Linked DNA regions of Homo sapiens: regions 2 and 3 are each linked to region 1. The links come from fine-mapping of genetic effects on gene expression. A gene starts in region 1. Each other region holds a variant in brackets. All regions are shown on one strand. Distances are from middle to middle. Region 1 holds the start of TCTN2 (tectonic family member 2). Region 2 overlaps TCTN2 (tectonic family member 2). Region 3 holds the start of ATP6V0A2 (ATPase H+ transporting V0 subunit a2).

The links.
Region 2: its variant is fine-mapped to the expression of TCTN2 in lymphoblastoid cells (GEUVADIS, PIP 0.95).
Region 3: its variant is fine-mapped to the expression of TCTN2 in lung (TOPMed, PIP above 0.99). The same link has a PIP of 0.9 or more in fibroblasts, left ventricle and minor salivary gland.

What each region holds. Positions count from the first base shown.
Region 1 is chr12:123,666,135-123,674,402 of GRCh38, forward strand. TCTN2 (tectonic family member 2) reads left to right here and starts at 4,979. Exons shown (of 18, transcript NM_024809.5): 1 at 4,979-5,188; 2 at 5,373-5,480; 3 at 5,922-5,998; 4 at 7,481-7,676. The coding sequence starts at 5,107.
Region 2 is chr12:123,688,230-123,696,497 of GRCh38, forward strand. TCTN2 (tectonic family member 2) reads left to right here. Exons shown (of 18, transcript NM_024809.5): 8 at 2,304-2,445; 9 at 4,429-4,494; 10 at 6,613-6,747; 11 at 6,991-7,068; 12 at 8,186-8,266. Among named protein-coding and RNA genes, the nearest start is that of ATP6V0A2, 20 kb to the right of the region's middle. The variant A/AT (reference allele first, on the strand shown) is at 5,225.
Region 3 is chr12:123,708,511-123,716,510 of GRCh38, forward strand. ATP6V0A2 (ATPase H+ transporting V0 subunit a2) reads left to right here and starts at 3,843. Exons shown (of 20, transcript NM_012463.4): 1 at 3,843-4,172. The coding sequence starts at 4,056. It overlaps LOC105370042 (a long non-coding RNA gene), which reads right to left. Exons shown (of 3, transcript XR_945477.4): 2 at 6,990-7,053; 3 at 4,256-6,224. RefSeq lists a silencer at 3,668-4,217. The variant A/C (reference allele first, on the strand shown) is at 4,223.

The DNA of each region.
Region 1 (8,268 bases):
AGATGCTTGTTCTTATTATTATTTTTTTTTTGTAAAGACTTGTGACCTAACATATGATCTATTCTTGACGATGATTCATGTGCTTAGAAGAATGTATTCTATAGCCATTAGATGAAATGTTCCATAAATATCTATTAGGTCCATTTGGTCTATAGTGCAAATTAGGTCTGATGTTTCCTTGTTGATTTTCTGTCTGGATAATCTGTCCAATGCTGAAAGTGGGAGGTTGAAGTCTCCAACTGTTATTGTACTGGGGTCTATCTCTTTCTTTAGCCCTAATAATATTTGCTTTATATATCTGAATGCTTCAGTATTGGCTGCATATATGTTTACAATAGTTATATTCTCTTGCTGAGCCTCTTATTATATAATGACCTTCTTTACCACTTTTTTTTTTTTTTTTTGAGACAGAGTCTCACTCTGTCACCCAGGATGGAGTGCAGTGGCATGATCTCAGCTCATTGCAACCTCCACCTCCCGGGTTCAAGTGATTCTCCCACCTCAGTCTCCCGAGTAGCTGCAATTACAGGCACCTGCCACCACGACCAGCTAATTTTTTTTTTTTTTTTTTTTTAGGCAGAGTCTCGCTCTGTCGCCCAGGCTGGAGTGCAGTGGTGTGTTCTCAGCTCACTGCAAGCTCTGCCTCCCGGGTTCACGCCATTCTCCTGCCTCAGCCTCCCAAGTAGCTGGGACTACAGGCACCTGCCACCATGCCCAGCTAATTTTTTTGTATTTTTAGTAAAGATGAGGTTTCACCATGTTAGCCAGGATGGTCTCAGTTTCCTGACCTCGTGATCCTCCCACCTCGGCCTCCCAAAGTGCTGGGATTACAGGCATGAGCCACCGAGCCCAGCCTAATATTTGTATTTTTAATAGAGATGGGTTTTCGCCATGTTGGCTAGGCTTGTCTTGAACTCCTGACCTCAGATGATCCACTCACCTTGGCCTCCCGAAGTGCTCGGATTGCAGGTGTGAGCCACTGCGCCTGGCCTCTTTTTTTTCTTTTTCTGTGGAGATAGCATCTTGCTGTATTGTCCAGGCTGGTCTTGAACTCCTGGGCTCAAGCAACTCCTGGGTTCCTCTTGCCTCGGCCTCCCAAAGTGTTGGGATTACAGGCATGAGCCATCACACCTAGTCTTAAAATCTATTTTATCTGATATAAGTATATAGCTACTTTTGCTCTTTTTTGGTTTCCATTAGAATATCTTTTTCCATCCCTTTATTTTTAGTCTATGTGTGTCTTTATAGGTGAAGAGTTTTTATAGGCAGCTAATCATTAGGTCTTTTTTTTTTAAATCTATTCAGCCACTCTATGTCTTTTGATTGGAGAGTTTAGTCCATTTACATTCAATGTTATTATTTATAAGTAAGGACTTACTACTGCCATTTTTAAATTTGTTTTCTGATCTTCCCTTCCTCCCTTCCTTCCATCTTCCTTTTTATGAAAGTGATTTTCTCTGGTGGTATGTTTTAATTTCTTGCTTTATATTTTTGTGTATCTGTTGTAGGCTTTTTGATATGAGTTTAGCATGAGGCTTGCAAATACCATCTTATAACCCATTATTTTAAACTGATGACAACTCTGATTGCAAAAACAAGCAGAGAAAACTAATACTCTAACTTCATCCCTCTGATTTTTAACTTTTTGTTTCTACAATATTTATATCTTATTATACTATGTCTTAAAAAGCTGTAGTTATTATTTTTGATAGGTTTGCCTTTTAGTCTACTACTCAAGATATGAATAGTTTACATATTTGTAGAGGTGCCACCTTGGTGATCTTGGGTACGATCTTGGAGAATTCCCTGGATCACCGTTAGCAGTGACGAGTCTGTACAGGTCTGCAGCAACTCGATTCTTGCCTCCTCAGAGGAAAGAATTTGGCCAAGCAGCATAAGGCAGAGTGAGAGACCAAGGCAAAGTTTAAAGCAGGGGTAAACGTTTATTAAAAAGTTTTAGAGCAGGAATGAAAGGAAGTAAAGTACACTTGGAAGAGGGCCAAGCGGGCGACTTGAGAGATTCAAGTGCCCCGTCCGACCCTTCACTGGGGGTTTCTATACATTAGCATGGTTCTGAGGTTTGTGCCCTCCCTTGATTTTTCCTTGGGGTGGGCTGTCTGCATGTCAGTGGCCTGCCAGCACTTGGGAGGGGCCGCATGTGCAGTGTGTTTACTGAAGTTGTGCGCATGCTCATTTGAGGCATTTTCCTTTACCAGTCGAGCCTTCCCAGAGGAAGGTTATATACCAGTTAAAATCTGCCATCTTGCCTCTTACTATGTATGCATGAGCCTGCTTGCCCAACTCCTGAGATCTTATCGGGAAGCTGCTGATCACCAGCTTCAAGTGTTTTCTATCTTTTTTTTTGAGATGAAGTCTCACTCTGTTGCCCAGGCTGGAGTGCAGTAGCGCGATCTCGGCTCACTGCAACATCCGACCCCTGGGTTCAAGCGATTCTCCTGCCTCAGCCTCCCGAGTAGCTGGGAGTACGGGCATGCGCCACCACGCCCAGATAATTTTTGTATTTTTGGGTAGAGATGGGTTTCTCTGTGTTGCCCAGGTTGGTCTTGAACTCCTGGCCTCAAGTGATCCATGTGCCTTTGCCACCCAAAGTGCAGGGATTACAGGCATAAGCCACCAAGCCCGGCCCAGAAATGTTTTCTTTTGGGAGGATTTATCTCTTAATCTTTACCGCTTGGCCTTGCCAACTTAATTTGCAGATTAATTCCCCCCAAAGACAGATGGGGAATAACAGAAATATTTAAGTGTTTGACAGCTTCCTCTTAGTAACGTTCTCCTAGGCTTCATTCCAAGATATCAAGAGAGGTAAACATTTTGCAGTCTTCCAGAGAGGAGCTGAGGTACACGGGAAAAGTTTCATGCTCATGTTACAACTGTAGTGACCCACAGTTTTTCAGGGAGTATAAGAAAAAGATAACACCCAGTGTCAGGCCCTTATAAAGCCTCAACTTTCAGAATCCTTTCACAATGTTAGATTTGCTGATCAATGAATATATAACTGAACATTAAGAGTAATAATGGGGCTGGGTACGGTGGCCCATACCTGTAATCCCAGCACTTTTAGAGGCCAAGGCAGGAGGATCACTTGAGCCCAGGAGTTTGAGACCAGCCTGGGCCACATGGTGAAACCCCGTCTCTATAAAAAATACAAAAATTAGCCGGGTGTGGTGGTGTATTGCCAGTTACTTGGGAGGCTGAGGTGGGAGGATCAGCTGAGCCCAGAAGTTTGAGGATGCAGTGAGCTATGATTGTGCCACTGCACCATTCCAGCCTGGGTGACAGAGTGAGACCCTGTCTCAAAAAGAAAAAAAAAAAAGACTAATAATGGCAAACATTTACTTGGCATTTACCGTCAGTCAGCCACAATGCTGAACACCATGATTGTCTCAGCTAAAGGATACACCACCTCTCTGATAGTTAACAAGTAACTGATCATTAACTGAGTGCTTACTGTATGCCAGCCATTGGTTTAACCTCATTAGATATGTTACCTCATTTCATCCTCACACAATCCCCAAGGAAGGATTATTATCATCCCTTTTTTATAGATGAGGAAGCTGAAACTTAGAGAGGTTGACTTGCCCAAAGTCACTTAACAGCTGAGAATATCTGTGGAGGGAAGGCGAAATCCCATGCCAGGCAGCCTGACCTCAGACCCTGCACTCTCAGTCCCCAAGCCGTGACAATATTTGAAATGTTCTGAGGCTACTGATATAAGAAAAAACAATTTTTTTCCAGACAGAATTTTGATTCTTTCACATCTGTCCTATTGCTGGGCAAAACCTCTTGTGTGTTCTGTGATTGGATCTGCTTTCAGAGTGCTGAGAGCTCTGTGCAGGGGAGAAAATCCTTCAAAAACCTAGGAGAATGATAATAAAAGCAATAGTGATAATAAATGATAATGATAAGAATTATAAAAATATAAATTTTATAAAATTATAACATATAAGTATAAAATTTACAAAATATATACTTATATAAAAGATAAATATATATAAGATAAAATATAAATACATATATATTTTATAAGATAAATAAATAAATAAATATATTTTTGAGACGGAGTCTGGCTCTGTCGCCCAGGTTTGAGTGCAGTGGTGCAATCGCGGCTCACTGCAACCTCCGCCTCCCAGATTCATACAATTCTCCTGCCTCAGCCTCCTGAGTAGCTGGGATAATAGGCGCCTGCCACCACGCCTGGCTAATTTTTTGTATTTTTAGTAGAGACGGGGTTTCACCATGTTGATCAGGCTGGTCTCAGACTCCTGACATTGTGATCCGCCCGCCTCGGCCTCCCAAATTGCTGGGATTACAGGCATGAGCCGCCAGACCCGGCCTATATGTATTTTATATATATCAAGTATGTATATCTGATATATATATATAAAACAAAGTATATCTATTTTGTAAATATATATTTATTTTATAAAAATATAAAATATAAATAATACATCATAAACGATAGTAAAGATAATAAACACAGCGCGGCAGCCCCATCCCCTTTTTCTACTCACCCCTAAAACAAATCCGTATAAAAATCAAGTTTATTAAGGAGCAAGTCCCACCCTTTTTATTTAGAAGCCAGTGTCTATAGGATCGCTCTTGGCTATTGTTGGATTAATTCCAGGGTAGGGGAAAACTCCAGTTTTTGAGCCGGACACGCACTCCTGCTTTTCAGGACCTTTTTAATTTTGATGTTTTCAACTTTTAGGCCCAGGGGTCCATGTACAGGTTGCTATATAGGTAAATTGCGTGTCACGGGGGTTGGGTGCACAGATTGTTTCGTCACCCAGGTACTAAGTGGAGCACCGGATAGGTAGTTTTTCAGCCCTCACTCTCCCCACCAGAGTCAAGCAGCAAAAATGCTAGGCCTTGTGGGCGGGGCCGGGGTGCCCGCTCTTGCCACTGGTCCAATCACAGCGCGGCGTTCCTCCTGGCCGGCCGCCGATTGGTGGTTGCCATAGCTCCGGGCGTTCGCTTGCAAGATGGCGGCGGCGGGGCAGTGGCTGCTGCGTTTTCGTGTCTGAGTCCTTCCTGGGTTCTAATGAGGGCGCGGTTCTGCTGTGCCCGGCCCGCGAGGTCTAAGGCATGGGCTTCCAGCCTCCGGCCGCTCTTCTTTTGAGGCTTTTCCTTCTGCAGGGCATCCTGAGGCTTCTGTGGGGGGACCTGGGTGTGTACGGCGCGGCAGTGACCTCGGTGGGCCGGGGCTGAGGGGACTGGGCGTTAAAAGGGCCAGACTTGGACTCCCCCGGGAGCTTCGGGAGTCGACAACGCCAAAGCAAGCCGCCACACACACCTTAGGCGGTGATTCTTCCACTGCTAACCCCTCCTTGTCCCCTTTCCTTCCCGCCTAGCTTTCATCCCTCCTTTTATCCGAATGTCCGGCCCTGCGGTCAGCGCGTCCCTGGTCGGAGACACCGAGGGTGTGACCGTGTCCCTGGCAGTGCTGCAGGACGAGGCGGGTAAAGTCCGGCCCTCTTTTGGGGAGGGTGGGGGTTGGACTGGATCCAGACCTCCCAAGGAGCCTGGAGAGGTGGCATCCTTGGGGCCCCCTGCCTCTGTTCTCTGCAAAGTCGCATGGGGAGAAAAGGATCGGGCGGCTGCTGTAGGCCAAAGAGGACAGACGGACAGGTTCGAAGAAAGCCTGAAATAATAATGGTTAGCATTCATTGAGCTAACATCGTGCATCATCCCATTTTCCTAGTAAGAACAGTAATATCTTTTCATCCCCTTTGACCAAGGAAGAAACAAGTTCAGAGAGGTTGTCACTGTCCCAGTGTCAAGCAGCTTGTAAAGGGCCCAATCTTAGGCTGTAATGTGAGTCCATCCTAGGCAGTCTGACTCAATGCACCCCCTGAGCTGCTGGACCTTGCTGCCTTTGCATGCTGGTCTTCTTTCTTTAGGAATATTGCCAATTCCGACGTGTGGAGTGCTGAACAATGAGACGGAAGACTGGAGCGTGACTGTGATCCCCGGTGCGGTAAGGCCAGAAGTAAACCTTCTCTGTAGCCTGTGAAGAGGCCCCCAGCTAGGGTTTCTGCAGTGCTCTCTTTATTTAACAAGGCATGGCTTTCTCCATGCTCTCAACAATCATGAAATTGTGGGCTGTTGGATCTGGTAGACACTTATCCAGCCCACGGGTTCCTTACCCTGGGGTTAGGAGTCCTTGGATGTATTTCAGTGGGTCTGTGAACTCTATGAAATTGTATGTAAAGTTCTGTGTGTATGTGCATTTTTCTGATGAGAGGGTCACCAGTTTCCTTTAGATCATCAAATGGGTCAGTGATTCAAAAAAGCTTTATGCCAGGCATCGTGGCTCACGCCTGTACTCATAGCGCTTTGGGAGATTGAGGCGGGAGGATTGCTTGAGCCCAGGAGTTCCAGACCAGCCTGTAACATAGCGAGACCTCGTCTCTACAAAACAATTAAAAAAAAAATTAGGTGGGTGGCGTACACCTACAGTCCCAGATACTTGGAGGGGGGTGGGGTAGCTGAGGCAAGAGGATTATTTGAGCCCAGGAGTTCAGGGCTGCAGAGAGCTATGATCGCACCACTGCACTTCATCCAGCCTGGGCAACAGAGCAAGACCCTGTCTCTTAAAAAAAAAGAAAAAGCTGGTCAGGCGCGGTGGCTCACGCCTGTAATCCTAGCACTTTGGGAGGCCGAGGAGGGCGGATCATCTGAGGTCAGGAGTTCAAGACCAGTCTGGCCAACATGGTGAAACCCATCTCTACTAAAAATACAAAAATTAGCTGGGCGTGATGGCGGGTGCCTGTAATCTCAGCTACTTTGGAGGCTGAGGCAGGAGAATCACTTGAACCCGGGAGGCAGAGATTGCAGTGAGCCGAGATCACGCCACTGCACTCCAGCTTGGGTGATGAGCGAGACTCCGTCTCAAAAAAAAAAGCTTCATAACCACTGATCTTGCCCAACTCTGAGCTTATGTGTAAGGATACTCAAACCTGGAGAGATTAAGCATCTTCTATTTAATAAGTGTTTATTGGATACCTAGTATATGCAACATCAATTCTGGAGAGAAAAGGACAGGAAAGACAAGCTCTGCTTGTACCCCAGGAGTGAACATGTACATGTCTAAAGTCATTCTGGGATAAACTGAGGATTGTTTTCATTGACTTTTTTTGTGTATTTACTCTTCCACTGATAGGATGATAAAGAAACTAAAAAGGTGTACAATAAACTGAGTTTATTTATCAGATCTGTGTTTAGCTTTCTCTAAGTATCCCGAAGTTGTTTGCTTTTATGTTAAGGAAGAAGAATCAGGGCTTGCATGTTACCATAGGTTTATGGGGGGGAACTGAAGATAACTGTGTCATCTCTGTATACATTTCCCTTTTATAAAATGAACGGAGGCTGATGTGTACTTTTATTGTGTTTTCCATTATGTATTCTTATAGACCCTGTTTTGAGTCACTTTAAAAATACAGCAATGTTTTCCTTTCAGAAGGTGTTGGAAGTGACAGTGAGGTGGAAGAGAGGTCTGGACTGGTGTTCCTCCAATGAGACAGATTCCTTCTCAGAGTCCCCCTGTATCCTCCAGACCCTTCTGGTTTCAGCATCTCATAATTCATCCTGTTCAGCACATCTACTCATTCAAGTGGAAATTTATGCCAACTCTTCTCTGACCCATAATGCCTCAGGCAAGTGAAGTCTTTGACTGTCAAAACTTTCATGTTGTTCCCAGCTACTTAGGAGGAAGAGGTAGGAGGATTGCTTGAGCCCGGGAGGTTGATGCTATAAATGAGCTGCCCGGGAGGTTAATGCTACAAATGAGCTGTGATCGCGCCACTGCGTTCCAGCCAGGGTGACAGAGTGGGACCCTGTCTCAAAAAAAACCAAAAACAAAAACAAAAAAAGAAAAATTTGTGTCAAGCTTACCTGTTTGATTATAAGTGTATGCCATGCAATTTGTAAAGTATACTTCACTTGAGTCTGTCTTGCTTTTCTAAACTTATTTTTCTTTTGTTTAGTTTTCTTTTAAGAAATTTCATTTTGTACTATTTTATTTAACATTTATTTGATCTTTCTCTACTGTTTGCATCTTTATAAGCTACCTTGAATCCTTTTTGGGAGAAGGTGAAATTTGTTTATGTACATTGATTCTCTCTCTTTTTTTTTTGAGATGGAGTCTAAGTCTGTCACCAGGCTGGAGTGCAGTGTTGTGATCTCGGCTCACTGCAACCTCCACTTCCTGGGCTTAAGCGATTCTCCTGCCTCAGCCTCCCGAGTAGC
Region 2 (8,268 bases), 22 kb after region 1:
TTATGAGACGGAGTCTCGCTCTTACCTCCTAGGCTCAAGTGCAGTGCCAGATCTCGGCTCACTGCAACCTCTGCCTCCCGGGTTCAAGTGATTCTCCTGCCTCAGCCTCCCCAGTAGCTGGGACTACAGGTGTGTGCCACCGCACCCAGCCAATTTTTTGTATTTTTAGTACAGACGGGGTTTCACCATGTTGACCTGGATGATCTCGATCTCTTGACCCTGTGATCCTAGTGCCTCAGCCTCCCAAAGTGCTGGGATTACAGGCATGAGCCACCATGCCTGGCCACTAGACCCTTCTTTTATTTTTCCTGTCCTATTGTTAATTTAAGTCATATTTCTCTTTAAAATCTCTTTTTAAGTTACTTACTTTCCTCCTTTCTACCTTTCAGGGACTTAACTGTTTATGTTCTCCAAATTAATAAAATATATAGTCACTCTTAATCACTGTCTTTGCTTAAAACTCAGAGTGAACTTACAAAATAAAACCAAAAGATTTTCTATAAGTTTCCATGGAAGTACCTATCATTCTTTTTCTTTTTTTTTGAGACAGAGTTTCGCTGTTTTTGCCCAGGCTGGAGTGTAATGGCACAATCTCAGCTCACCGCAACCTCTGCCTCCCGGGTTCAAGCGATTCTCCTGCCTCAGCTTTCCCAAGTAGCTGGGATTACAGGCATGCACCACCACGCCCAGCTAATTTTGTATTTTTAGTAGAGACGGGGTTTCTCCATGTTGGTCAGGCTGGTCTCGAATTCCTGACCTCAGGTGATCTGCCTGCCTCAGCCTCCCAAAGTGCTGGGATTACAGGCATGAGTCTTTTTTTTTTTTAAATTAAAAAAATTTGTTTTGGTTTGAGACATAGTCTTGCTCTGTCACCTAGGGTGGAGTGCACTGGCGTGATCTCAACTCCCTGCAGCCCTGACCTCCCACATTCAAGTGATCCTCCTACCTCAGCTTCCCAAGTAGCTGAGACTACAGGCACATGCCACCATTCCTGGCTAATTTTTTGTAGAGGTGGGGTTTTGCCATGTTGCCCAGGCTGGTCTTTTTAACTTCTGGGCTGAAGTGACCTGCCCACTTTGGCCTCCCAATGTGCTGGGATTACAGGCTTGAGCCACCGCGCCCAGCCAAAAATTTTTCTGTAGAGATGGGGGTTTCACTATGTTGCCCAGGCGGGTCTTAAACTCCTGGCCTCGAAATTCTTCTGCCTTGGCCAAAGTGTTGGGATTACAGTGTGAGCCTTGATGCCTGGCTAGCAGTAACTATCATTCTTTGCTTCTTTTTCTTTTTATATTTTTATTTTAGGTTCAGGGCTACATGAGCAGGTTTGTTATATAGGTAAACTTGTGTCATGGGGTTTTGTTGTACAGATTATTTGTCACCCAGGTACTAAGCCAAGTACCCAATAGTTTTTTTCTGATCCTCTCCCTCCTCCTACTCACTACCCTCAAGTAGGGTCCGGTATAAAAAACAATGGTTAGATAAATACATCATTTTATTTACCATTCTAGAATTTTGAAAAATATTTTAAGGCTGTAAGGTTGTATATGGAATCATTTGTATATCTATATATGAATGCACAAGTGAATGAATGACAGGGTCTTGCTCTGTCGCCCAGGCTGGAGTGTAGTGAGTGTAGTCACAGCTCACTGCAGCCTCCATCTCATGGGCTCAAGCAATCCTCCCACCTCAGCCTCCCAAGTAGCTGGGACTATAGGTGCATGCCATTATACCCGGTTAATTTTTTACTTTTTGTAGAGACAGGGTCTTGCTATGTTGCCCAGGTTGGTCTTGAACTCCTGGGCTCAAATGATTCTCCCACTACAGCCTTCCAAAATGATGGGATTACAGGTGTGAGCCACTGCTCCCAACCTGAAATCTTTTTTTAAGTTCAACATTATGAGGAGTGTTATTTGTGGGAAGAAAGCATGGGAGGTGAAAATTTCTCTTTCCTATTCATATGAATCCATTTTTATGGTATTAAACTCTGGTTGTGATGAGGGAGAGAACATGAAGTTAAATATAGTCATGTCTCTGCAAACTAAATAGAACAGGACAAGGGATTTTCTTTGTTTTTATTAGACAATATTTACTGTGACTCCACAACCAGTGGCTTCCAGACCTTGATGGGCAAATCAGTTAGATGTTTTGCTAAAGCGGGTCAACTAGTCGGTGAACTTGCCGTTGCTGAAACCAGACCAGCAATGGGAGCAGGCTGCAGAAAGACCAGTTTTAAGGGATGCTGATCTGTTTTGTATGATTAGGAGAGAGGCCATAAATCTGTTGGCTTTGCCCTTCTCCCTCAGGTGTCCCTGGCTGGGCAGTGTATGCAGAACGCCCCAGTGGCATTTCTTCACAATTTTGATGTTAAATGCGTTACTAATTTGGAACTATACCAAGAACGAGATGGTATTATCAATGCGAAGATAAAGAATGTTGCCTTAGGAGGTATGTTACATTTCTTTGAAAAAAGAACACAGGCCCAAACATGAATATAAAGTATGATCTCATGAGAGTATAAATCATTTCTACTGGTTCAACTTCAAATAATATTTGAACTGCCAATTATTTTCTTTGGAAAAAGTTTAGTTCCGTAAGACAGCATATTGCATATTAATTATTTTGAAATTGAAGTAAAATTCAAATAACATAAATTTAGCCTTTTTGTTTGTTTCTCCGTCACGCAGGTTGGAGTGCAGTGGCGTGATCTCGGCTCACTGTACCCTCTGCCTCCTAAGTTCAAGCGATTCTCCTGCCTCAGCTTCCCGAGTAGCTGGGACTACAGGTGCCTGCCACCATGACTGGCTAATTTTTGTGTTTTTGGTAAAGATGGGGTTTCACTGTGTTGGCCAGGTTGACCTTGAACTCCTGACCTCAGGTGATCCACTCTCCTAGGCCTCCCAAAGTGCTGGGATTACAGGTGTAAGCCATCGCGTCCCACCAGAATTAACCCTTTTAAAGTGTACAATTCATTGACATTAGTACCTTCCACACTGTTGTGCCACCATCACCTCTCTCTAGTTCCAGAACGTTTCATCGCCTCAGAAGGGCATCTGTACCCATTAGCAGTCACTCCCTACCCCTCTTCCCTCAGCTCCTGGCAGCCACCAATCTGCTTTCTGTCTCCGTGGATTGCTTATTCTGGGTGTTCCCTAGAAACAGAATCATACACTATGTGGCCTTTTGTGTCTGGCTTCTTTCACTGAGCATGGTGTTCCATGGTTCATCCGTGTTTGTAGTGTGTGGCAGCACTTCATTCCTTTTTATGGCTGAATCATAGTCCATTGCATGGACAGAGCACATTGTGTTTGTCCATTCCTCAGTTGATGGACATGTGGGTTGTTTTCATCTCTGACTGTTGTGAATAGTGCTGCCATGAACACTCGTGTCCAAGTTTTTGCGTAGATGTGTGTTTTTATTTCTTTTGGGTAGACACCTAGGAGTGGAACTGACAGGTCATGCTAATATGACTTCTTGAGGACCCACCAAATTGTTTTTTTTTTGTTTTTTTGGTTTTTTTTTTGAGAGGGAGTCTTGCTCTGTCACCCAGGCTGGAGTGCAGTGACGTGATCTCGGCTCGCTGCAACCTCCACCTCCCTGGTTCAAGCGATTCCCCTGCCTCAGCCTCCCAAGTAGCTGAGATTACAGGCATGTGCCACCACACCTGGCTAATTTTTTTTTTTTTGAGACCAAGTCTTGCTCTTGTCCGCCAGGCTGGAGTGCGATGGCGCGATCTCGGCTCACGGCAACCTCCACCTCCTGGGTTCAAGCGATTCTCCTGCCTCAGCCTCCCGAGTAGCTGGGATTACAGGCACCCACCACCACGCCCTGCTAATTTTTGTATTTTTAGTAGAGACGAAGTTTAGTAGAGATGGGATTTCACCATGTTGGCCAGGCAGATCTCGAACTCCTGACCTCAGGTGATCCACCCACCTCGGCCTCCCAGAGTGCTGGGATTACGGGCATGAGCCACCACGCCCGGCTAATTTTTTTGTATTTTTAGTAGAGAGGAGGTTTCACCATGTTGGCCAGACTGGTCTCAAACTGACCTCAGGCAATCTGCCTGCCTCGGCCTCCCAAAGTGCTGGGATTATAGGCGTGAGCCCCTGCGCCTGGCCAATTGTTTTCTACAGTGTCTGCACCATTTTGTATTGCCACCAGCAGTGAACTGCATATTTGTTTTTATGTCACAGTGACCCTGGTTTTTGTTTGTTTGTGTGTTTGTTGTGGATTTTCTTCCTCCGTTATAATTAGATGCTAAGAGGATGGGGACTCCTATCTGATGGTTTTTGGGGAGTGGGGAGGGTTTTGTAGTCAGCACCCTGGGCAGTTGCGGTCACCATATTTGCTTTGTAAGCTATACTTTGAGTAAGTGTGATCATGGTAGGCCATGTGTACGCCTGTGGAAGTTAATTTATGTTATCTCTTTAGGCATAGTTACACCAAAAGTGATCTATGAGGAAGCAACTGACCTAGACAAATTCATCACCAATACAGGTATTTAATGTTACACTTTGACGTCATTTCTTCAGAAACAGATATGTCATTTCTTACAAGTAATATATACCCTCAGAGTGTATATTTTTGTTAGTCATTTAAAAAGGTTCACAATAGTTAGAAAGATCTGCCAGGAACATTTCATTTGTTCCTCGTTCTGTCCTGCTGGGCTTTAGAGTGCTCTCTGTGACCTTGAGCCTGCTCCTCCACAGTCCTGGATTCTCTGAGTTCCACCGACCCTTCTAGTTCCAGCTTCCGTGAACCTTTCCTTAAATGTTTGATAGTTAAATAATTCTTTTTTTTTTTTTTTTTTTTTTTTTGAGGCGGAGTTTTGTTCTTGTCACCCAGGCTGGAGTGCAATGGCATGATCTCGGCTCACTGCAACCTCCGCCTCCTGAGTTCAAGTGATTCTCCTGCCTCAGCCCCCTGAGTAGCTGGGATTATAGTCACCCGCCACCACACCCAGCTAATTTTGTATTTTTAGTAGAGACGGGGTTTCTCCCTGTTGGTCAGGCTGGTCTCGAACTCCCGACCTCAGGTGATCCACTTGCCTTGGCCTCCCAAAGTGCTGGGATTATAGGTGTGAGCCACCGCGCCCGACCAGTTAAAAGAACTTTTTAGGGCACAGCATTTTCACTTTTTGCTTTCTTTCCTTTTTTTTTTTTTTTTTTTTTGATAATTAAACTTTCCAATTGTGATGCAGCCAAATAAGTTACGTAGAGTTTGGCAG[A/AT]TTTTTTTTTTTTTTTTGAGATGGATTCTTGCTCTGTCACCCAGGCTGGAGTGCAGTGGTGTAATCTTGGCTCACTATAACCTCCACTTCCTGGGTTCAAGCAGTTCTCCTGCCTCAGTCTCCCAAGTAGCTGGGATTACAGGTGTTCACCACCATATGCCTGGCTAATTTTTGTATTTTAGTAGAGACGGGGTTTCACCATGTTGGCCAGGCTGGTTTCGAACTCCTGACCTCAGGTGATCCACCTGCCTTGGCCTCCCAAAGTGCAGGGGTTACAGGCGTGAGCCACGGCGACTGGCTCAGTTTGGCTAATTTTACCAGAACTTTAGTTTTTAATGAAGGATACTGTTTGTTTCTTTCTTTTCTTTTTTTTTTTTAATTGGAGACAGAGTCTTGCTCTGTCGCCCAGGCTGGAGTGCAATAGGGTGATCTCAGCTCACTGTACCCTCCACCTCCCAGGTTCAAGCAATTCTCATGCCTTAGCCTCCTGAGTAGCTGGGATTACAGGCACCTGCCACCAATCCCGGCTAATTTTTGTATTTTTTTGTATTTTTTTTTTTTTGAGACAGTCTCACTGTCACCCAGACTGGAGTGTAGTGACACAGTCTCCACTCACTGCAACCTCTGCCTCCTGGGTTCAAACGATTCTTCTGCCTCAGCCTCCCGAGTAGCTGGGATTACAGGTGCCTGCCCCCATGCCTGGCTGATTTTTTGTATTGTTAGTAGAGAGGGGGTTTCACTGTGTTGGCCAGGCTGGTCTTGAACTCCTGACCTCGTGATCTGCCTGCCTCAGCCTCCCAAAGTGCTGGGATTACAGGCGTGAGCCACCGCACCCGGCCTAATTTTTGTATTTTTAGTAGAGACAGGGTTTCGCCATGCTGGCCAGGCTGGTCTCGAACTCTTGACCTCAGGTGATCTGCCCACCTCGGCCTCCCCAAGTGCTGGGTGTCTCTTTCTGATGTGTTGTACTTCTCAAATTTATTCATTGGCTCATCAAATGTTAGTGGAGTTCCTACGCCGTAGTAGGGAACTAGATAGCGGGCCCCTGCCCTGGCGGAACTGACCCTCTGGTCTTTCATCTCACAAACATTTTACCAAGTGCATGCTCCATGGCAAGCTATGAGCCAGGTGCTGGAGATATAGAAATGAAAGGAACAGATCTCATTCTGGGTACTGTGATGGCATAGAGGAGGCAGCTAATGCTGACTTGGTGGGACCAGGGCAGGCTTCCTCAAGGAAGCAGTGACCGTGCCATGTTAGGGAGCTGGAGATAGGGAGGGCAGGGGCAGGGCACTTGGGGAAGGCCACGCAAGCAGAGAGAACCTCCCAGTAACAGAGTCAGGCTCAAAGAGGGTCTTTAATTTATGAACATATTCTTGTATTTGCAGAAACTCCTTTAAATAACGGATCAACCCCTAGAATTGTGAATGTGGAAGAACATTATATTTTCAAATGGAATAATAATACCATCAGTGAAATAAATGTTAAAATTTTTAGGGCAGAGATTAATGCCCACCAGAAAGGTAACTTTGATGAGGGTAGCAAGCATGCTTTCACTGAAAAGTATTTTTTTTTCCTCTTTTCAAGATTCTCATAATTATAACCCATAAAACTAAGTTGGACTTGTTTCTTATGTGCATTTATGATTTAATTAACGAGAGTACACTTTGTATGACAAAATGCAATTTTAAGGTAAACACTATGGAGAATAATTTCTTTTCCTAGTGAAATGGTGCACATTATATTTTATTTTGTTTTATTTCTAGGGATAATGACACAGAGATTTGTAGTAAAATTTTTAAGCTATAATAGTGGTAATGAAGAAGAATTATCTGGAAATCCAGGTAAGATGAGTATATGCCAGTCATTGATCTTACAAACATACTTTAGTTCAACACTCCCAGCCATCAGGATGGTTATAAGTAACTCTCTCCAATTTAGTTTCTGACTCTGACCTTTTTCTTTATTTTCTCTTTTTCTTTTTTTGAGACGGAGTCTTGCTCTGTTGCCTAGTCTGGAGTGCAGTGGCGCAATCTCGGCTCACTGCAACCTGCACCTCCTGGGTTCAAGAGATTTTCTTGCCTCAGCCTCCTGAGTAGCTGGGATTACAGGTGCACACCACCATGCCTGGCTTTTTTTTTTTTTTTTTAATCACACAACACAGGAAGTTTTATTCATCTGCTACTTCTCCAAAGAGAGGCTTGCAGGGTTGCTCACTTTAATATAATTTTTATATTTTTAGTAGAGATAGGCTGTTGTTCACCGTGTTGGCCAGGCTGGTCTTGAATTCCTGACCTCAAGTGATCCCCTGGCCTTAGCCTCCCAAAGTGTTGTGATTACAGGCATGAGCCACTGCCCCAGCCTCTTTATTCTCTGTTGTGGCACTGTATTCATTTTTTTTTTTTTTGAGACGGAGTTTAACTCTTGTCACCCAGGCTGGAGTGCAATGGCACGATTTGGGCTCACTGCAACCTCCACCTTCCAGGTTCAAGCAATTCTCCTGCCTCAGCCTCCCAAGTAGCTGGGATTACAGGTGCCCACCAACACCCTCAGCAAATTTTTGTACTTTTAGTAGAGATGAGGTTTTGCCATATTGGCCATACTGGTCTCGAACTCCTGACCTCAGGTGATCCACCCACCTCGGCCTCCCAAAGTGCTAGGATTACAGGCGTGAGCCACTACGCCTGGCCGACATGGTATTCTTTTTGTGATAACAATGTATTTTTTTTTTTTACATAGTCTGTTGTACATAGTAACAAGTTGCTGTAAATGTGAAGCATTCTTTCTCTTTAGCTACTGTTTTTTTTGAGACCCGAAGTTGCCATCTTTCTCTCAAGGGTATTTTCGAAAGCTTCGCCTATGTGTTTTCTTTCCTTGTGCATGACTCTTGTATTATTTGCAGAGTTAGGGCTTGCTATGCTGGAGGAAACAGGCTCACGTTCCTTTGTTGTGTTTGTCTAGGTTACCAACTTGGCAAGCCTGTCCGAGCTCTAAATATCAACAGGATGAATAATGTCACGACTTTACATCTTTGGCAATCGGGT
Region 3 (8,000 bases), 42 kb after region 1:
TGTTAGAAATTTTAGCTTATCACAAATTAGTTAAAGTCATAGGAGTTTTATTTATACCAGAGAGAATCAGTCTTTTCTTTAGTTTTTAATACATTCGTGTTGATTGATGTTTCCCATATTCCGTAGAAAGGATTAAGAAATCCTTAAAAATGCATGTAATACAAAAACACAAAATCACTGATGGGGAAAGATATGGGGGCTGCGGGAGGAAAATAATAAGAGAAAAGTAAAACAAAACCAGGGGCACATGTAAGCCCTAAAATACATGCCAGAGGTTGCCTTTAGCAGAAGCAGGCCCCTAATTCATTATTTATTTATTTGTTTTTTGGAGACAGGTTCTCCCTCTGTTGCCCAGGCTGGAGTGCAGTGGCACGATTATAGCTCACTGTAAACTCAGACACCTGGGATCAAGCGATTCTCCCCCAAGTAGCTGGGACTACAGGTGGCACACAGCTACCACGCCTGGCTATTTTTTTTTTTTTTTTTTTTTTTTTTTTTTTTAGTAGATGGGGGTCTCGCTATGTTGCCCAGCCTGGTCTCAAACTCCTGGCTTTAGCGATCCTACCACCTAAGCCTCCCAAAGTGCTGGGATTACCAGCAGGAGCCACTATGCCCAACCAAGACCCCAGTTTACAAAAACCCAAGTATGATTAGCTATAGGAATTATGAAATCTATTCATTAATACAGGAATTATGAAATCTATTCATTAAAAATTAACTGGTTATCAATGAAGGACAGTTTTTCCTAGCTGAGTCTTGACAAATTTCTCCCATGGGCCGTCACATGGGAACAGTCAACCCCACTCAGTGGGGAGAATGGATTTTTTTTTTTTTTTTTTTTTTGAGACTCGGTCTTACTCTGTTACCCAGGCTGGAGAGCTGGAGAGCAGTGGCACAATTACGGCTCACTGCAGCCTCGACCTCCTGAGCTCAAGTGATCCTCCCACCTTAGCCTCCCAAGTAGCTGGGACCACAGGCTTGTACCTGGCTAGTTTTTGTATTTTTTTTTTTTGTAGAGAAGGGGGTCTCCCTATGTTACCCAGGCTGGTCTCGAACTCTTAGGCTCAAGTGATCTACCTGCCTTAGCCTCCCAAAGTGCTGGGATTATAGGTATGAGCTGCTGTGCCCAGCCCTGGAATAGATGTTTTTAGCCACGGTCCTACAGTGGCCACATGGCACATCACCTGTAAGTTTTCTTTGTGTGCCAGGTAACTTAGTTGTTTCAGATGGATTTTCTATGTTATTTAAGCCTAATTTTGAAAAATAATTATTTTCCCTTTTATACTTTTTGATCGAATTCCTAGTGCCTGCTGATACCCAGCACCACATAAAATGTGCTGTTTCATCTTCGCTGCAGAGTTCCTGCCCAGGGGCAATTTCAAATTTTCCTCCAGTCTTAAGTCCATTTTCTTTTTTCTTTTTTTTTTTGAGACGGAGTCTTGCTCTATTGCCCAGGCTGGAGAGCAGTGGCGTGATCTTTGCTCACTGCAAGCTCCGCCTCCCGAGTTCACGCCATTCTCCTGCCTCAGCCTCCTGAGTAGCTGGGACTACAGGCACCCACCACCATGCCCAGCTAATTTTTCGTATTTTTAGTAGAGACGGAGTTTCACTGTGTTAGCCAGGATGGTCTCGATCTCCTGACCTCGTGATCCACCCGCCTCGGCCTCCCAAAGTGCTGGGATTACAGGCATGAGCCACTGCGCCCGGCCTGAGTCCACTTTCAAATAGGGGGATGAGCTAGTCACTGCAGAGGTCCTAAGTTTCTGCATGATGGAAATACCGTGAATTTCAGCATCTGTACTGTGGTGGTGTTGGGCCTTCACCCGACCCCTCTAGGGCTGACTCAGGAATCTGGGTCAGTACTGGACTGACGGAGCTGGGGTCTGAGTCAATTATTGTCTGAACTTCAGCCTTTGAATTCACCTTCACAGTTCTTACTGTATCTTTTTGTTGTTGTTGTTTCTTTTGAAACAGAGTGTCACTCTGTTGCCCAGGCTAGAGTCCAGGGATGCCATTTCAGCTCACTGCAAGCTCCACCTCCCAGGTTCAAGCGATTCTCTTGCCTCAGCCTCCCGAGTAGCTGGGACTACAGGTGCCCACCACCACGCCTAGCTAATTTTTATATTTTTTTAGTAGAGACGGGGTTTTGCCATGTTGGCCAGGCTGGTCTCAAACTCCTGACCTCAAGTGATCCACCTGCCTCAGCCTCCCAAAGTGCAGGGATTACAGGAGTGAGCCAGGGCACCCAGCCTAGTGTAACTAGCTTTGGATTTCAGGTATTTATGGAAAATAAATTTAAAACTTCCAAATGACAGGTAATTTAGCTTGATTTTGTGGGCTTTGTGAGGACGCCTTTTGTACTTAAAAGAAGGAAAAAACTCAGTTTGGCAGAATGGGGTCTGGAGTGTCTATGGTTTTAACTTTTTTAAGTTTATACATTTATGTATGCATTCATGAACTATTTATTGAGTGGCTACTATGTGCTGGGGCTTGGAGATACCACAGTGGCAGAAACAATGTCCCCACCTTGGTGGAGCTTCCATTCTAGCAGGGAAGACTGGCACTAACACACAGACAAGATAATTTCAGATGGTGGCAGGTGCAGTGAAGGAAATAGAACAAGGATGTGACTCCAGGGACAGTCTCAAGGAAGGGGATATGTAAGCAGAGACTCGACTGGGACAGCGGTGAGGTTGCGGCCTGGGGCGGGGGGCCACTGCTTCCCGGTCAGTGTGGGGAACACACACTGGGTGCTGTGTGATTCCATCGACAGGACAAGCCTGGAGGTGGCAAATTTAGCGAGACAAAATTGTCCTGTGGTGGCCAGGCCGGGCGGGAAGGGGAGACTGCAACTGAGCAGGAGGAGTCTTGCGAGGTCGGTGGGAAATGTTTGAAAACTGGATTGGGATGCTGGCTGCACACTCCAACTTCACGAAGAAGCCTAGGATCCCTCCGGGCGGCGGATCACGCCTGTAATCCTAGCGCTTTGGGAGGCCAAGGCGGGAGGATTGCTTGAGTTCAGGAGTTCGAGACCAGCCTGGCCAACATGATGAAACCCCTTCTCTATAAACATTTTAAAAACAAATTAGCCGGGTGTGATGGCGCGCGTCTGTAATCCCAGCTCCTCCAGAGGCTGAGGTGGGAGGATCGCTTGAGCTCAGGAGGTCAAGGTTGCAGCGAGCCGAGCTCGTGCTACTGCACTCCTCCCTGGGCCACAGAGGGAAACCCTATCCATAAAAAACCAGCAGCAGGGCCGGGCGCAGTGGTTCACGCCTGTAATCCCAGCACTGCGGAGGCCGAGGCAGGCGGATCACCTGAGCTCTGGAGTTTTGAGACCAGCCTGGCCAACATGGTGAAACCCCGTCTCTATTAAAAATACAAAAAAATTAGCTGGACGCGGGTGGCGCGCGTCTGTAGTCACAGCAACTGGGGAGTCTGAGGCTGGAGAATCGCTTGAACCTGGGAGACGGAGGTTGCAGTGAGCCGAGATCGCGCTACTGCACTCCAGCCTGTGGGACTGCGTGAGATTCCGTTTCTCTCTCTCTCTCTCTCACACACACACACACACACACACGCAGCAGCACAGGGTCGTGCACTAGGAACGGGTGAGCTTCGCGGCGTGCACACTCGGCGAGACTCCTCCAGGAAAGCCGGGGAGCCGCGCGGGATTTAGCTCTGCGTCCAGTCCGGCGGAGCGCCAGCTGCAGTGGTCGTACCCGCCGGGTTCGCGCTGGTTGGCCCTGCCGCCACGTCGTGCGGCGACAACCTCGGGCGTCCATTGGTCGGCCGGCGGGGGGGGCGGGACGCGGGGGCGGAACCGGAACCGGCAGTGGCTTGGGGGCGGGACCTCGCGGACTGCTGTGGCGGCAGCTGGAGCGGCGGCCGCGGTGGCAGAACCGGGGGCGGCCGCTGCAGTCTGGAGCCCCATAGTGCGGGGCCGCGGCCAGGCCACAGGAAGAGCTCGAGGCCCGGGCCGCACCGGCTGAGTGTGCGGGCCCGCGCGGCTCGGAGCCGCCGCCGCCCATCGAGCCCCTCCGGGCGCGGGTCGGCCCGCCATGGGGTCCCTGTTCCGGAGCGAGACCATGTGCCTGGCGCAGCTCTTCCTGCAGTCGGGCACGGCCTACGAGTGCCTCAGCGCCCTGGGCGAGAAAGGCCTGGTCCAGTTCCGAGACGTGAGTGTCGCCCGGGAGACGCGGGCCGCACCTGCTCTCCTGGCGCCCCC[A/C]ATCCCGCGCATCGCTGGGGCCCTCCCGCGGGGAGCACCGAGGAAGGGCGCGCCCCGTCCCCATTGTCCAGACGGGGAAGATGACACCCCAGCTCAGCGGCCAAAGCTTCCCGGAGCGCGGGGCTGACTCCAGGGTCGCCGGCCGTCTGTGTGGTCGGCGGCTGCTCTGCCCCAGTTAGTTAGGATCGCCCGTGTGGTCTTCATCAGCTCCGGGCACCGAGCTCAGCGGGAGAACAAATCCCACAAAGGCCTCTTGGAGTCCTTTTGGAACTTTACGGGGGTTAGGGGGGCGCATTAACCAAATAAATAGGTCAACCAGAAAAGGTTTGCCATAAAGAAGAAACGGGGTGATGTGAAGGTGATTCGGGCGGGAGGTGAGTGTGAAGGGATTGTCGAGGAAGCCTCCCGGAGAAGGTGATATTTCAGCTGAGACCCAAATAGAAAGGAGCCAGCCGTGGGGAAGATCTGGGGAGAGGGTCCTTGTTGGAGGGAACAGGAGGAGCCCAGACAGAGCCAGAAATGGGAAGGAGCTGGATGTCATCTGCTTGAGGAGAGGGATTTTTGTGTTTTGGTCACTGATGCTTAATGCTGTACATACCATTGTGTGTAAGGACTTAAGAACTCAGTCATTGTTTGTCGAGTGGAAGCTGTCTCCCCAACAAGTAATAATAAACATTTGTTTGTCCATTTACTTGTTTATTGTTTGTCTCCACCAAGGACTGTCAACCTCTGAGAGTAAGTACCTTAACGCAGTCCTTGGCAGTCATTGGCATCGATAGGCATTTGTTGAATGAACAGACAAGCTTTTCTTGACTGCCCGCTATGTTCAGGCACTGTTTTTGGTGCTGGAGACTCGGTGGTGAGCAAGGCAGACACAGTCCCTGTGTTCCTGGAGCTTCCAGTGTGGGAGGAGACAGATTAAACACACTCTGATTATGAGCTGTGATAAGTGCTAAGAAGGCAAAGAACAGGGTGTGGAAGGGAGACCGTGAAGCAAGTACTTACTGACTGAATTGAAATCCACTCAGGCGAACATTTTATTTCCTGGCCACCACTTTCATCTCCTGACTGTTTCCCTTAATCTTCCTAAGGTGTCCTTAATTTCAAAAGGGATCAGCCCTACCCGAGATCTGATATCCATTGATATCAGATATCTAATACCAGATCAGCCCCATAAGGCAGTTGCAAAGTCATGGAGAGACTCCTGAGTGACAGGCGAGGGTGCAGGTAAGATGCAGGGCGGTTCCTGGTTCCTGGAGCCACTTCTGCAGTTGTACCCATTCACCTGATGGATGCTGCGCTGAGCTGTGAATAGCACCCAAAACATTCAGGCAACAGCTGCAGGTGCAGCAGGCTCCTACATTTGTAACAGGTAGATGTTTTCCTTCCGGTTAGTACTCAAGCCAAGACACTTATCACACTTCAGTCTTACAGGTTTGAGCAAACGTACTAATCACTATGAAGGTTCCAGTTTCAATAAGCGCCACTACCTCCAGTCATAGAGTGTACCTGGGATCCTTTTCAACTGAATGTCAGTGAAAGGAGAAGAAAGTGCTGTTCATCTTTTTCCAGAAGGAAGTAAAACTAAGGTTGCTGCGATGAGCTCTTGTGTGGTGCTAGGTTTTCAGTGTGTCTTCAGCCTGAGTTTCCTACTGACTTTGTGGTGACCAGATGGGATCACTGTTAGTAACCCTTGCAAGGGAAAGGGGGGCAGGTGGTGACTTCCGTGGTGACAGCTAGTGGGAAGTACCTGGAAAAGAAAGGTCATTCAGCTGATGGGGAGGACTCCCTGAAGGGAAAGTTCGCACTTTTGTTACAGTTCTCAGTCTAAGAACAGGTTTCCTCTTTAGTCCTTCAGCTGAAGTGGGAGTATCAATGGCTGTGAATATCAAAACAAACAGCACCAGATCTCCTCTGCCGGTTTTACTAGGTTAAATGTGCCTTGAATTGAATCTACATTAAAATGTACCTTATTCCATTAGCCTTGAATTAGGGTGCTGCCCTAAAAGGGAAAAAAAACCCAAAATTTATAAAAGAAACCACACAATAGAAAAAAAAAGTTAATATGTCTGGGCACGGTGGTTCACGTCTGTAATCCCAGCACTTTCGGAGGCCAAGGCGGGCAGATCACAAGGCCAAGAGTTCGAGACCATCCTGGCCAACATGGTGAAACCCTGTCTCTACTAAAAATACAAAAATTAGCTGGGCATGGCGGGGTGTGCCTGTAGTCCTAGCTACTCTCAGAAGGCTGAGGCAGGAGAATCACTTGAACCCAGGAGGCAGAGGTTGCAGTGAGCTGAGATCGCGCCACTGCACTCCAGCCTGGCAACAGAGCGAGACTCCGTCTCAAAAAAAAGTTAATATATGTAAGCTGGTGATGGTGGTGTATGTATGTGAAATCCATGTTTGTATTATTGCCACAGAAATTTACCTCTTTATAAATAAAGATTCTACTATTTGTAGAAACATCATGCCCATTTAGAGTTAAGTACTATTTGATATTGAAGGAAGAAAATGAAAGCTGAGAAGTAGTATCCTGTGACAGCTTTAGACACAGAACTTCCTTTCCAACAAGTTCCATAGAACTAGATTGTGTCTGAATCATTAGTAACTTGGAAGTGGTTACTTTTAGTTCGACCTCCAGAAATGAATGAGAAGGTGACAAACAGAAGTGAAATGAGAATTTTTACCTTTTTTCTGGTTCTTTTAAAAAAAAAGTCCCCAAAAAATGAACAAGAACTGAGTCAGACACTGAGTAGACACTTACCAGGTTGAGCAGTTTCATGTCAAGTTGTATCTTAACTGTTTCTTGAGAGTGCCCAGTACAAATCCTGGATGGAATAAAGATAAATTTCGTGTCTTAAATGGCTTTCAACATGAATGATATACTGTAAATTGTTGAAGTATGAAAGTGATAGATGACCATTGTGAGAAATGTGGAAAACATAAGAATAGTAACATACCTTGCATGATCCCAACGCCTAGAAATTAACTTTAACTTTTTGGCTAATACTGGACAATCAGCATTTCTCTAATAATGTTTAAAAATGTCCATATATATGTATTTTTATATAATTTGAACCACACTGAAAACATCCTAATCTGCTTTACACAGAAATCATGACTAACTTCCTAATTTTATTAAATATTCTTTTACAACTTTTTAAAATTGTTTTAAACTTTATATTATAAGTAGAGGGAAGAGTACAGTGTACCCCCATGTACCCATAAATGTAAACTTAGTTTTTTCTCACTTCCCAGACTAGATCATTTTGAAGCAAATCCAAGATATATAATTTAACTTTTCAACAAGTACCTCTAAAAGATGAATTTTTTTTCTTTTTTTTTTTTGAGATGGAGTCTCAATTCTGTCGCCCAGGATGGAGTGCAGTGGCGCGATCTCAGCTCATTGCAACCTCTGCCTCCCAGGTTCAAGTGATTCTCATGCCTCAGCCTCCTGAGCAGCTGAGATCACAGGCGCGCGCCACCACGCCTGGCTAATTTTTGTATTTTTAGTAGAGACGGGGTTTCACCATGTTGGCCAGGCTGGTCTCCAACTCCTGACCTCAAGTCATCCCCCCACCTTGGCCCCCCAGAGTGCTGGGATTACAAGCATGAGCCACCAGGCCTGGCCTAGAAGATAAAAAATTATTACCAACATTGTACCTGAAAATTTAAATAACATTTCTTAATATAATCAAATACCTGGTCATTTTTACACAACTTTATTGAGGTGTATGGTAGAGTTTACCCATGATTTTTAGAAAGTTTATGGAGG